Linked DNA regions of Homo sapiens. The protein of the gene in region 1 purifies or fractionates together with the protein of each later gene. This does not show direct contact. Each region holds a gene or a part of one and is shown in the gene's direction. Other genes may lie near its edges.

Region 1 (3,751 bases):
GGTGAAACCCCGTCTCTACTAAAAATACAAAAATTAGGCGGGCATTGTGTCGAGCGCCTGTAATCCCAGCTACTCAGGAGGCTGAGGCAGGAGAATCACTTGAACTTGGGAGGCGGAGGTGGAGGTTGCAGTGAGATCACGCCACTGCAGTCCAGCCTGGGTGACAAGAGCAAGACTCCGTCTCAAAAAAAAACAAAAAACAAAAAACTCCACAATTTTAAAGGATGAATATGGTTGCAAATTGGGCAGGTTATGGTCTGCTTAAGACACTTCAATAAGTCTGATATGTCATAAGCACAGATGTCTTCAGGAGCCAGGCAGGTGTCATCACTGAACAGATAGGATAAAAGTCAGGAGGGAGAGTGGAGTCAGAGAACAGCCCTGAGCTAGAGCCCCTTCCACAGACGCAGCTGTTACTCAGCTCTAATTGATACAACACCAATGGTGCACCAACCACCATCATGTGATTTTTAAAGATAAGACAGTAATGAAAACTTTTAGTGAACTATTCCAATGTCAAACTTTATCTTCCAAACCAAACATCATAAATAGCACTGTGTATGCTGAAAAGAAGCACTGTTTAGCCAAGTACCTGCCCTGGGGCTGCAGTCTATGTCTTTTGCCTCATACTATAGACACTTAAGTGCAAATGTTTCTAGCCAGTGTGGCTGTCAGCATCACAGAGGGGATACTCTACGTATCATTCACCTTTACATTCTCATCACCTACAAAAATGATCTCCACACAATATACATGAAAAAATAAACTTGCCTCATGATAAAGCTGCTAATGAATGTCGGCCAGAACAGGACTTCAAGGCAGAGCAATATTAGCTGCGCATTGAGTCCTCACCAGGTCACCATTGTGTCCACATTTACCTAAGGACCCCAGTGATAAAATTATTGCATTTCTAAATGACAGGAAAATTGGACGGTAGTAAAAATTAGGCAGATTAACTGTTGGAAGGTATATTATATCATTTAAGGGTCTACTTTCCATTTTCTAATCTCAAAGCTAGACCAGATTTAACATCTGTTAGTACCCAGGCCTTACCTTTGCAATTCACTTCTCACCTCTGTACAATTTCCCCACATCATCCCCTGTGCCCAGAATGCTCATCTCTTCTCTAAATCCCCTGAAAATCCCCTGCTTATCCTTTAGGACCTGCTGAAATAAACTTTTTTTTGAAGTTTTCCTTATTTCTCAAGCCAAGTGATTTCCTTCACCAGCAGTGTCCCTATGACACCATGTTCACACAAATGCTATTACCTCTATCACACTGTAATACAATTATATGTCTACAAGTACTTTCCTGTGTTTCTCTGAGGGCCAAGAATAAATGTATGCTTTGTGTATCAAACTGTACACTTGACCTCTATACTTTCAGGAATACAGTGCTCTGTCCTTAAATGTTCATTTGTAAATACAGAACCATATTCTTGTTAATATCACAAAATGAAACTTACCAGGAAGATGAATGACAACCCCAGAACACACTGTTTTGTAGAAAATACCATAGGCTGAAAAGATCACAGGAATACCGAGTGCTAGGTTGGAATCTTTCATGACACCAAATGTTCATTCATCCTCTGCCAGATTTTACAACTGTCCTCGGTGTGTTTTTAGGTTATGTAACTTTACACAAAGTGGAATCAATAATCAGGGCAAGACTTAAGAGAAAGTGGATCCAATGCAAGAGGAGTAAAGAAAAAAATTCCTCAATTGTATGGAGCAGATTGTTTTAATTATCTACAGAATCTTGTGCCCCAAGAAATTAATAGCTCAAGTTTCCAGCAAGAGTGGTGGATGAGATGGAGAGCATTTATGTGAGAGAGAACCAAGGATATTACTAAAAATGGAAGGGAAGCTGGGTTTCTCCTGGGCAAACAGCCCTCTGTGGCTCTATTTCTCCTAACTACTATGCCTGCCTTCGTGTCATTTAGTCATTTAGGGGCCTGCCAGAGGACAGTTATAAAATCTGTGGTCATTCTGCCGGCAGCGTATAGTTTTCACCCAGAGTCCAGATCCCACCGGCAAAACTCTGTCTAACACAGGATGACTTGGAATTAGAGTCCGTATAGCAGAAAGAGCAGCAGGGCTGTCCTTGGGTATCCGTTGCTCAGCCAAGTCATCAAATAAAAAGGATGATTGCACAAGTGGACCATGTGTCAATCTGTGGGTTTCTGCATGGCCAGACCCACCAAGGGAAGCTTTATTTAAACAGTTCCAAGTAGGGGAGACCAGCTGCCCCTGAACCCCAGAACAACCAGCTGGATCAGTTCTCACAGGAGCCACAGCTCAGAGACTGGGTAAGTCAACAATCCCCAGAGCTGGGACAGGAGGGGCAGCGACAGGGCAGCACCTGAGGGAGAGGTGAGCTGAAGTTAGTGCTTAGGAGATGTGGCACACTTTGGGGACAGGAAGAAAAGGAAATGCGACCCCAGAGTGGCAGCAGAGGGGCCTGTGGGTTGAGACACTATAGAGTGTGTCATAACCGAGACCGGATCGGGGAGTAGTTACTTCTCTTCTTTTCTTACAGGAAACATGGTTCCAAAACTGTTCACTTCCCAAATTTGTCTGCTTCTTCTGTTGGGGCTTATGGGTGTGGAGGGCTCACTCCATGCCAGACCCCCACAGTTTACGAGGGCTCAGTGGTTTGCCATCCAGCACATCAGTCTGAACCCCCCTCGATGCACCATTGCAATGCGGGCAATTAACAATTATCGATGGCGTTGCAAAAACCAAAATACTTTTCTTCGTACAACTTTTGCTAATGTAGTTAATGTTTGTGGTAACCAAAGTATACGCTGCCCTCATAACAGAACTCTCAACAATTGTCATCGGAGTAGATTCCGGGTGCCTTTACTCCACTGTGACCTCATAAATCCAGGTGCACAGAATATTTCAAACTGCACGTATGCAGACAGACCAGGAAGGAGGTTCTATGTAGTTGCATGTGACAACAGAGATCCACGGGATTCTCCACGGTATCCTGTGGTTCCAGTTCACCTGGATACCACCATCTAAGCTCCTGTATCAGCAGTCCTCATCATCACTCATCTGCCAAGCTCCTCAATCATAGCCAAGATCCCATCCCTCCATGTACTCTGGGTATCAGCAACTGTCCTCATCAGTCTCCATACCCCTTCAGCTTTCCTGAGCTGAAGTCCCTTGTGAACCCTGCAATAAACTGCTTTGCAAATTCATCTGGAAGTGTCTGTGTGTCTTCCTCGGCCGCTCTGCTGTCATTTAGTGACAATCTGCTCTAGAGATTTGGGTTTATCATGAATCTCTCCCCCTCAATATCTGACCAAATTCCTTAATTCCCCCATCATCCTTCATGTGATACCTGATTCCAGGCCTGCCTTAAAAAAAAATCCAATTGAGTCAACTTAGCATTGGTCTCCCTAGCCTTAATATCTCCTCTAAGCAATTTTCCATCCACTGACTCCTCCCCCAACACCAACCTATAACTTGTGTATAGATCTCCACTTGTTTTAGTTGTATTCCAGAATTGAGCCCAATTTGATATTGAGGTCCCATTTGATGCTTTATGGTCCGACTATGGTTTTTATTGACATGATTTCTATCCCAAGAAAAAAAGAGCTGCAGTGAATCAGCTGAAAATGCACGTGCTTCATTATGATTTATGAATGATAAATTTTGATAGAATTGAACGTTATGATAGAAAATAGAAAAGAAGAAAGTAGAAAAAGTCAAGAATGCTATAAATAAGGTGAAACCAAGATAA
Region 2 (3,751 bases), on another chromosome or scaffold:
CGCCAGGGCAGGGGTGTGGCCATCCTTCTGCAGTAATGCAGGGAAGACACGTTGCCGTGAGGGGGCAGCCTGCAGATCTATTTTATTTATTTATTTATTTATTTATTTATTTATTTATTTATTTATTTATGAGATGGACTTTTGCTCTTGTTGCCCAGGCTGGAGTGCAATGGCAGTATCTTGGCTCACCGCAACCTCCGCCTCTCGGGATCAAGCGATTCTCCTGCCTCAGCCTCCCAAGTAGCTGGGATTACAGGCGTGCACCACCACGCCTGGCTAATTTTGTATTTTTAGTAGAGACAAGGTTTCTCCATGTTGGTCAGGCTGGTCTCGAACTCCCGACCTCAGGTGATCCACCTGCCTCGGTCTCCCAAAGTGCTGGGATTACAGGCATGAGCCACTGCACCCAGCCAGCCTGCAGATTTATTTTAATGAGAAAATCAAAGCAAAAGCAGGGGCATAAGTGGAGCATATGGATGGGACAGAGAACGTTGGAGGCTTTAGCAGAGAGAGGAAAGGGCAGGAAGGAGTCATCCACAGGAGGGGAGAGTACTGTCCTGTGACTGCTCCTCCAAGCCCCCTCTTGCCGGCGTGGACACAGCGGTCTGCACCTTGACCCTATTGCATGCCAGTGGAGCAGAGCCCCCCAGGCCAGAAGCCCTATAGCTGTTGGCCCTGGCTTGGACACCGGGCAGGGGGCACCGGGGCAGGAGCTGGCCGCGATCCTGTGGCCCCAAATGCCCCCTCGCTGATGGCCTCGTGTTCTGGGTGCAGAGCAAAGAGGACCAGGTGTCAAAGGCACCTCAGGCAGGCGCTGGGCTCAGTGGGCATCTTGTGCTCCGGGATTTTGAGGCCATTTGCAGCCAGCTCCTCCAGCCCCAGCTCCGAGCTGCAGACGCTGCCACGCACAACAGCACCGCCAGGAGTGTCCTGGGGGCTTTCTTCAGAGGAGGCTGTCAGCATCCTCAAGTTCCAGCCGCTTAGCCCCAGTCCTGCTTCAAGAGGCTTTTTTTTCACCAGAGGCTTCTCAATGGCCTGAAAGCTCAGCTGAGTCCCATGAAGTTTGCCAGGAACATAAGGCTGTCGGTGACATTCGTGGCGCCAAGATTTAAACACGCGGTTGCACGCATTGGCCACTGTCTGTGCCACATGCACTGACGCCACCTGAGATGCACACGCTGCACGCCGCACGCGCACGCCGCACGCGCACGCGGCAGCGGCTTGGCTGGCTTGTAATGGCTTGCACGCGCACGCCACACGCGCATAGCGGTTTGGCTGGCCTGTAACGGCTTGCACGCGCACGCCGCACGCGCGTAATGGCTTGGCTGGCCTGTAACGGCTTGCACGCGCATGCTGCACGCGGGTAACTGCTTGGCTGGCCTGTAGCGGCTTGGCTTGGCTTTGCGTTCTTTGCTTGGCTTGGTGTTGGTCGCTTGGCCTGGTGTTCCTCCTTGGATTGACGTTTCCTCCTTGGATTGGCGTTTCCTCTCTCGCGTTCCCTTGCTAGGCTTGACCTTTTCTCTGCTGGGTTTGGCATTCCCTTGGGTGGGCTGGGTGTTTTCTTGGGGGGGGGGGTTGGCCCTTCCTCGGGTGGGCGTGGGCTTTCCCCGGGTGGGTGTGGGTTTTCCCTGGGTGGGGTGGGTTGGGCTTACCTGCTGGGGTTGGCAGGTTTTGGCTGGGATTGACTTTTCTCTTCAAACAGATTGGAAACCCGGAGTTACCTGCTAGTTGGTGAAACTGGTTGGTAGACGTGATCTGCTCGCTACTACCGGCCTCCCCAGGCTGTTAAAAGCAGATGGTAGCTGAGGTTGATTCAATGCCGGCTGCCTCTTCTGTGAAGAAGCCATTTGTTCTCAGGAGCAAGATGGGCAAGTGGTGCCGCCACTGCTTCCCCTGCTGCAGGGGGAGCGGCAAGAGCAACGTGGGCACTTCTGGAGACCAGGACGACTCCACTATGAAGACACTCAGGAGCAAGATGGGCAAGTGGTGCTGCCACTGCTTCCCCTGCTGCAGGGGGAGTGGCAAGAGCAACGTGGGCACTTCTGGAGACCACGACGACTCCGCTATGAAGACGCTCAGGAGCAAGATGGGCAAGTGGTGCTGCCACTGCTTCCCCTGCTGCAGGGGGAGCGGCAAGAGCAACGTGGGTGCTTGGGGAGACTACGACGACAGCGCCTTCGTGGAGCCGAGATACCACGTCCGTCGAGAAGATCTGGACAAGCTCCACAGAGCTGCCTGGTGGGGTAAAGTCGCCAGAAAGGATCTGATCGTCATGCTCAGGGACACTGACGTGAACAAGCAGGACAAGCAAAAGAGGTAACCAGGCCTGGGCTGGGAGGAGGTGGGAGGTCGGGGGATGATGGGGACATACCCTCCTGGCGGGGGAGGAGGGGGACCTGGCTTTCTCACCTCCGCAGGCCTCACAGCACCCTGGTTGTGGAAACCTCAGAGAGGTCAGGGCACAGGCCCCTTTATGAACAGCAACACACACAAAAAAAACTTTAGCTGATTTCCAATCAAATTATAATTTCCCTCGTAGAACACTAATAGACTGTTTTAAAGTGATTTAACTTGCAAAATTAATTAAGTCAATGCAGCAGATTATTTTTAATCTACAGATTTTAAAACAATGTTCTATACATTATAGAAAAGTGTATATTGAGAACTAAGAATGAAGCCCCATAACACATCAACTTCAGGGCTAAATATTCTTCAAATAAAATCCAGTATGGATTTTATATCAATGTACCCTATGTAAATACGTTCTTTACTGAGGAACCTTAGAAGGAAACTGAAATGGGAAGATGGTTCCTGTGCTTGAATAGGAAGATTGAATTTTCTTAAGATGTGAGCTTTTTGGCTGGGCGCGGTGGCTCATGCCTGTAATCCCAGCACTTTGGGGAGGCGGGCGGATCACGAGGTCAGGAGATCGAGACCATCCTGGCTAACACGGTGAAACCCTGTCTCTACTAAAAATTATAAAAAAAATTAGCCGGGCACGGTGGCAGGTGCCTGTAGTCCCAGCTACTCAGGAGGCTGAGGCAGGAGAATGGCGTGAACTCGGGAGGCGGAGCTTGCAGTGAGCCAAGATAGTGCCACCGCACTCCAGCCTGGGAGACAGAGCGAGATTCCGTCTCAAAAAAAAAAAAAAAAAAAAAGATGTGAGCTTTTTCTATTTATCACTTTTACATAAGCCAAATAAAAATAGCAAAGTTTTAGCGTTTTTAAATTACACATGCTGTCTTTTATTATTGTGATAAATTAATTTTTTGTAACAGAATGGAAAAAGGCTTGCTTTTCCAGATATCAAAATGTGCATGTGTTATTTATTTCCACAAATTGTTTACTAACAGCTGAAAAGACATCAATGAATAGAACAGAATAGGAAATTTAGAAATACCCAAATATATGTAAGAATTTAGCACTTGATAATGGTGATGTTTTGTATTATTTAAAAAAGATGGATTGTTCATAATTCATTTTTGGAGAAAACTAGCTAGATTTTTATGTCACAAAAATAAGAGTATAGATTAAAAATTTTAAACATACAAAAGGAGAAACATACCAGAAAAAATATAAATGCCTATTTATATACGCAGATATATATATATATACATATATATACACATATATACATATATATACATATGTATATATACATATATATGTGTGTGTATATATATACATATATATGTGTGTGTGTGTGTGTGTGTATATATATATATATATATATATATATATATATATATAT
Region 3 (3,379 bases), on another chromosome or scaffold:
GAGTGAGCATGAGTGTCCGTGTGTGAGCACGTGAGAGTGAGCACGAGGGTCCGTGTGTGAGCACATGGGCAAGAATGAGCACGAGTGTCCGTGTGTGAGCACATGGGCGAGAGTGAGCATGAGTGTCCGTGTGTGAGCACATGGGCGAGAGTACGTGAGCACATGGGTGAGAGTGAGCACGAGTGTCCGTGTGTGAGCACATGGGTGAGAGTGAGCATGAGTGTCCATGTGAGTGTGAGCACATGGGCGAGTGAGCACGTGAGTGTGGCACATGGGCGAGAGTGAGCACGAGTGTCCATGTGAGTGTGAGCACATGGGCGAGAGTGAGGGTGCATGTTCATGTACTGGGAAAGGCGGGCTGGCGGCACCACTCTGGCTTAGTTCTCATTTTAACTCTGAAAGTCAGAGGTCATGTTTCATGAAGCCTGAGAGCTTCACGGAGCTCCAGCCTACCTGGCCACCCTGTGGTCCATCTTCCTGGAAGCCCCGCCCACCTTTCTCCCTTGCGGGAACCCCGCCTGTGTCAGGATGTTTTTCCAGATTTGTTTTCTTTGTTAAAGCACGTTCTTTTGCAGCTTTCTAAGAAAAGGTTTTGCAGGAGGTAATTTTTGGGGTCTTGTGCCCCTGTTCTGTCCTTGGATCATTTAGCCGGGTATAGCATGCACCATTATGCCCGGCTAATTTTATTTTGTTTGTTTTTTTGAGAGAGTCTTGCTCTGTCGCCCAGGCTGGAGTGCAGTGGTGCGATCTTGGCTCACTGCAAGCTCCGCCTCCCAAGTTCATGCCATTCTCCTGTCTCAACCTCCCGAGTAGCTGGGACCACAGGCGCCCGTCACCACACCAGGCTAATTTTTTGTACTTTTAGTAGAGATGGGGTTTCACCGTGTTAGCCAGTATGGTCTTGATATCCTGACCTCGTGATCCGCCTGCCTCGGCCTCCTAAATTGCTGGGATTACAGGCGTGAGCCACCACGCCTGGCCTAATTTTTGTATTTTTAGTAGAGATGGGGTTTCACCATGTTGGGCAGGCTGGTCTTGAACTATTGACCTCAAGTGATGAGCCTGCCTCAGCCTCCCAAAGTGCTGCGATTACAGGCGTGAGCCACTGTGACCTTGTGTGCACGATCTGCTTTTTCTCGTTGGCAGCTTTTCAAGCTCTCTTTGTTCACTGTGTTAGGGGTTCCATGTGCTTGGCCTTGATGGGGGTCTTGGTTCTTTGTGCTGGATACTTGGTTCTACTAAGAAAATATACCTTTGGTGATTTTTTTCTCTCTCCTTTCTTATGTTTCTTTTTTGGTGTGCCCATGAGCCTGTCCTGATGTCTTGTGGAGTGACCCTCTAATTATGTTCTCCAAATTTTCTTTTCGATGTTTTGTTTTATTTTTGGGAGATGTTCTCATTTACCAGCCAGTCTACTGAATTTCCACCCTCAGTGTTTTGTCTTTTGTTTGCTGTTTCCCGTGTGCCTCTCGCCAGGGGCTTTCCGTGGGTGGCTGGTCATCCTGGGCTGGGCACCAGGTGCAGAGTGAGGCCCGGGAGCCCTGGACAGTGAGCCCTGCAGGCCGAGTCATGGCTGCGTTTCTCGAGGGCTTCCTCCTGATGGGGGATTTTCAGTTCCCTGCCAGGGGACACCATCCTGGCTGCCAGGACCTTGTGGGTGTTCCAGATGTGGAGAGGAACCTTGGGTCCTGGTCACTGCAGACTTGTTCCCCCTGAGCCACTCACAGGGTGGGGGTCCTGCAGCTTCCCTGGCCCCCACCTTGGAGAGGTCCAGTGCAACTCCTTGGCCCTGCTGTCCGGCCTGTGGCGGCTCCACCCCGGGAAGTGGGTGTTGGGTCTTCTCTATCCCATCCTCTTTTGTCTGACCCGTTCTCTTGTCTCTCTCTGGAGCCTAAAGTCTGTTGTCCACTCTGTTCTTGTCTTGGTACCCTCCATACCCTCGTTTCCCCACAGCTGCTCCTCAGTCTCTGGCTGGCTTCTCCTTTGAAGCCCACGCAGCCAGACGGTGTCGAGGTGACAAGGGGGTGGGTGTGGCTCTCTGGGTGGACGACATCTCTCTCCTGTCCTTTCTCCTCCCTGCAGAAGATCTCAGGCGAGTGAGGCTGCTTGTGCCTCGCTTGTCTGTGCCTTCCTTGTCCGTGGTGGGGAACCTGCCCAGGGCCACAGGGACGGTGAGCCTTGGGGACGGCCCCACCTGAGGGTCCTGAGTTGCCGAGCACAGGTGTCCGTCGCGCCCCCCAGGCCCAGGCCTGCTCTGCCGGTCAGTGCGGTGCCAGGCACGCCCGGCACCCTGACCCCCGCCCTGCTTCACCCAGGTTGGCCGACTGCGATGTGAGTGACAGCAGCTGCAGCAGCCTCGCCGCAACCCTGTTGGCCAACCACAGCCTGCGTGAGCTGGACCTCAGCAACAACTGCCTGGGGGACGCCGGCATCCTGCAGCTGGTGGAGAGCGTCCGGCAGCCGGGCTGCCTCCTGGAGCAGCTGGTGTATGTGCACGCGCTGGGCGGGTGGTGCGGCCAGGGCTGCCCAGGGAGGAAGGCGGGGGTGGGGGAGGACACGGGCCCATGCCTCCCTTCTGGCCTGTGTGCAGCCTGTACGACATTTACTGGTCTGAGGAGATGGAGGACCGGCTGCAGGCCCTGGAGAAGGACAAGCCATCCCTGAGGGTCATCTCCTGAGGCTCTTCCTGCTGCTGCTCTCCCTGGACGACCGGCCTCGAGGCAACCCTGGGGCCCACCAGCCCCTGCCATGCTCTCACCCTGCATATCCTAGGTTTGAAGAGAAACGCTCAGATCCGCTTATTTCTGCCAGTATATTTTGGACACTTTATAATCATTAAAGCACTTTCTTGGCAGGAGAGGCTCTTGTCCTTCCTGGGGTCCTTGCGAGGCGCTGGCATTGGAGACGACACCACCCCACTTGGCTTCTCTCCCTGCCTAAGGGACCCCGCACCAGGGAAGCAGCCCAAGGCCCTGGCTGTGCTCAGCTGGGTCCCCTGAGCTGCACCCACCCACACTGGGGAGCACAGGGCAGGCCCTGCCCAGGGTGGAGGGATGCCCCTTGGCTCTGTTGCCCGTGCAGGGTGACGCCTGCTGGGAGCTGCCTGCAGGCCCAGCTGCTCCCGCAGCTTCCACCCCGGAGCCTCAGGAGCCCCCAGCACTGCCCTGACTGCCCCCCAGCCCAGCCCAGCCCAGCCCAGCCCAGCCCAGCCCAGCCCAGCGCGGCCCAGCGCGGCCCGGGTTCCTGCCCGGAGCCCAGTGCTCGCCCCAGCTCTGTGTGGGATGATGGGGCAGCCCATCTTGCCCACGGGTGGACAGCTGACCAAGGTGGGCCAGCCCGGGGTGCCCTGCCCTGCCAAGCCAAGAGGGGGACGCTCACC

What was found.
Region 2: the proteins of RNASE3 (region 1) and POTEI purify together in Homo sapiens (affinity purification with mass spectrometry; 2 studies listed by BioGRID and IntAct, with this or other methods). This does not show direct contact.
Region 3: the proteins of RNASE3 (region 1) and RNH1 purify together in Homo sapiens (affinity purification with mass spectrometry; 2 studies listed by BioGRID and IntAct, with this or other methods). This does not show direct contact.

What each region holds. Positions count from the first base shown.
Region 1 is NC_000014.9:20,889,143-20,892,893, forward strand, and holds RNASE3 (eosinophil cationic protein precursor), read left to right. Parts: upstream 1-2,242; 5' UTR 2,243-2,309; intron 2,310-2,539; 5' UTR 2,540-2,544; coding exon 2,545-3,027; 3' UTR 3,028-3,206; downstream 3,207-3,751.
Region 2 is NC_000002.12:130,507,280-130,511,030, reverse strand, and holds the start of POTEI (POTE ankyrin domain family member I), read left to right. Parts: upstream 1-1,702; 5' UTR 1,703-1,795; coding exon 1,796-2,316; intron 2,317-3,751.
Region 3 is NC_000011.10:493,990-497,368, reverse strand, and holds the end of RNH1 (ribonuclease inhibitor), read left to right. Parts: intron 1-2,315; coding exon 2,316-2,486; intron 2,487-2,590; coding exon 2,591-2,678; 3' UTR 2,679-2,854; downstream 2,855-3,379. UniProt on the Homo sapiens protein: Ribonuclease inhibitor which inhibits RNASE1, RNASE2 and angiogenin (ANG). May play a role in redox homeostasis. Required to inhibit the cytotoxic tRNA ribonuclease activity of ANG in the cytoplasm in absence of stress.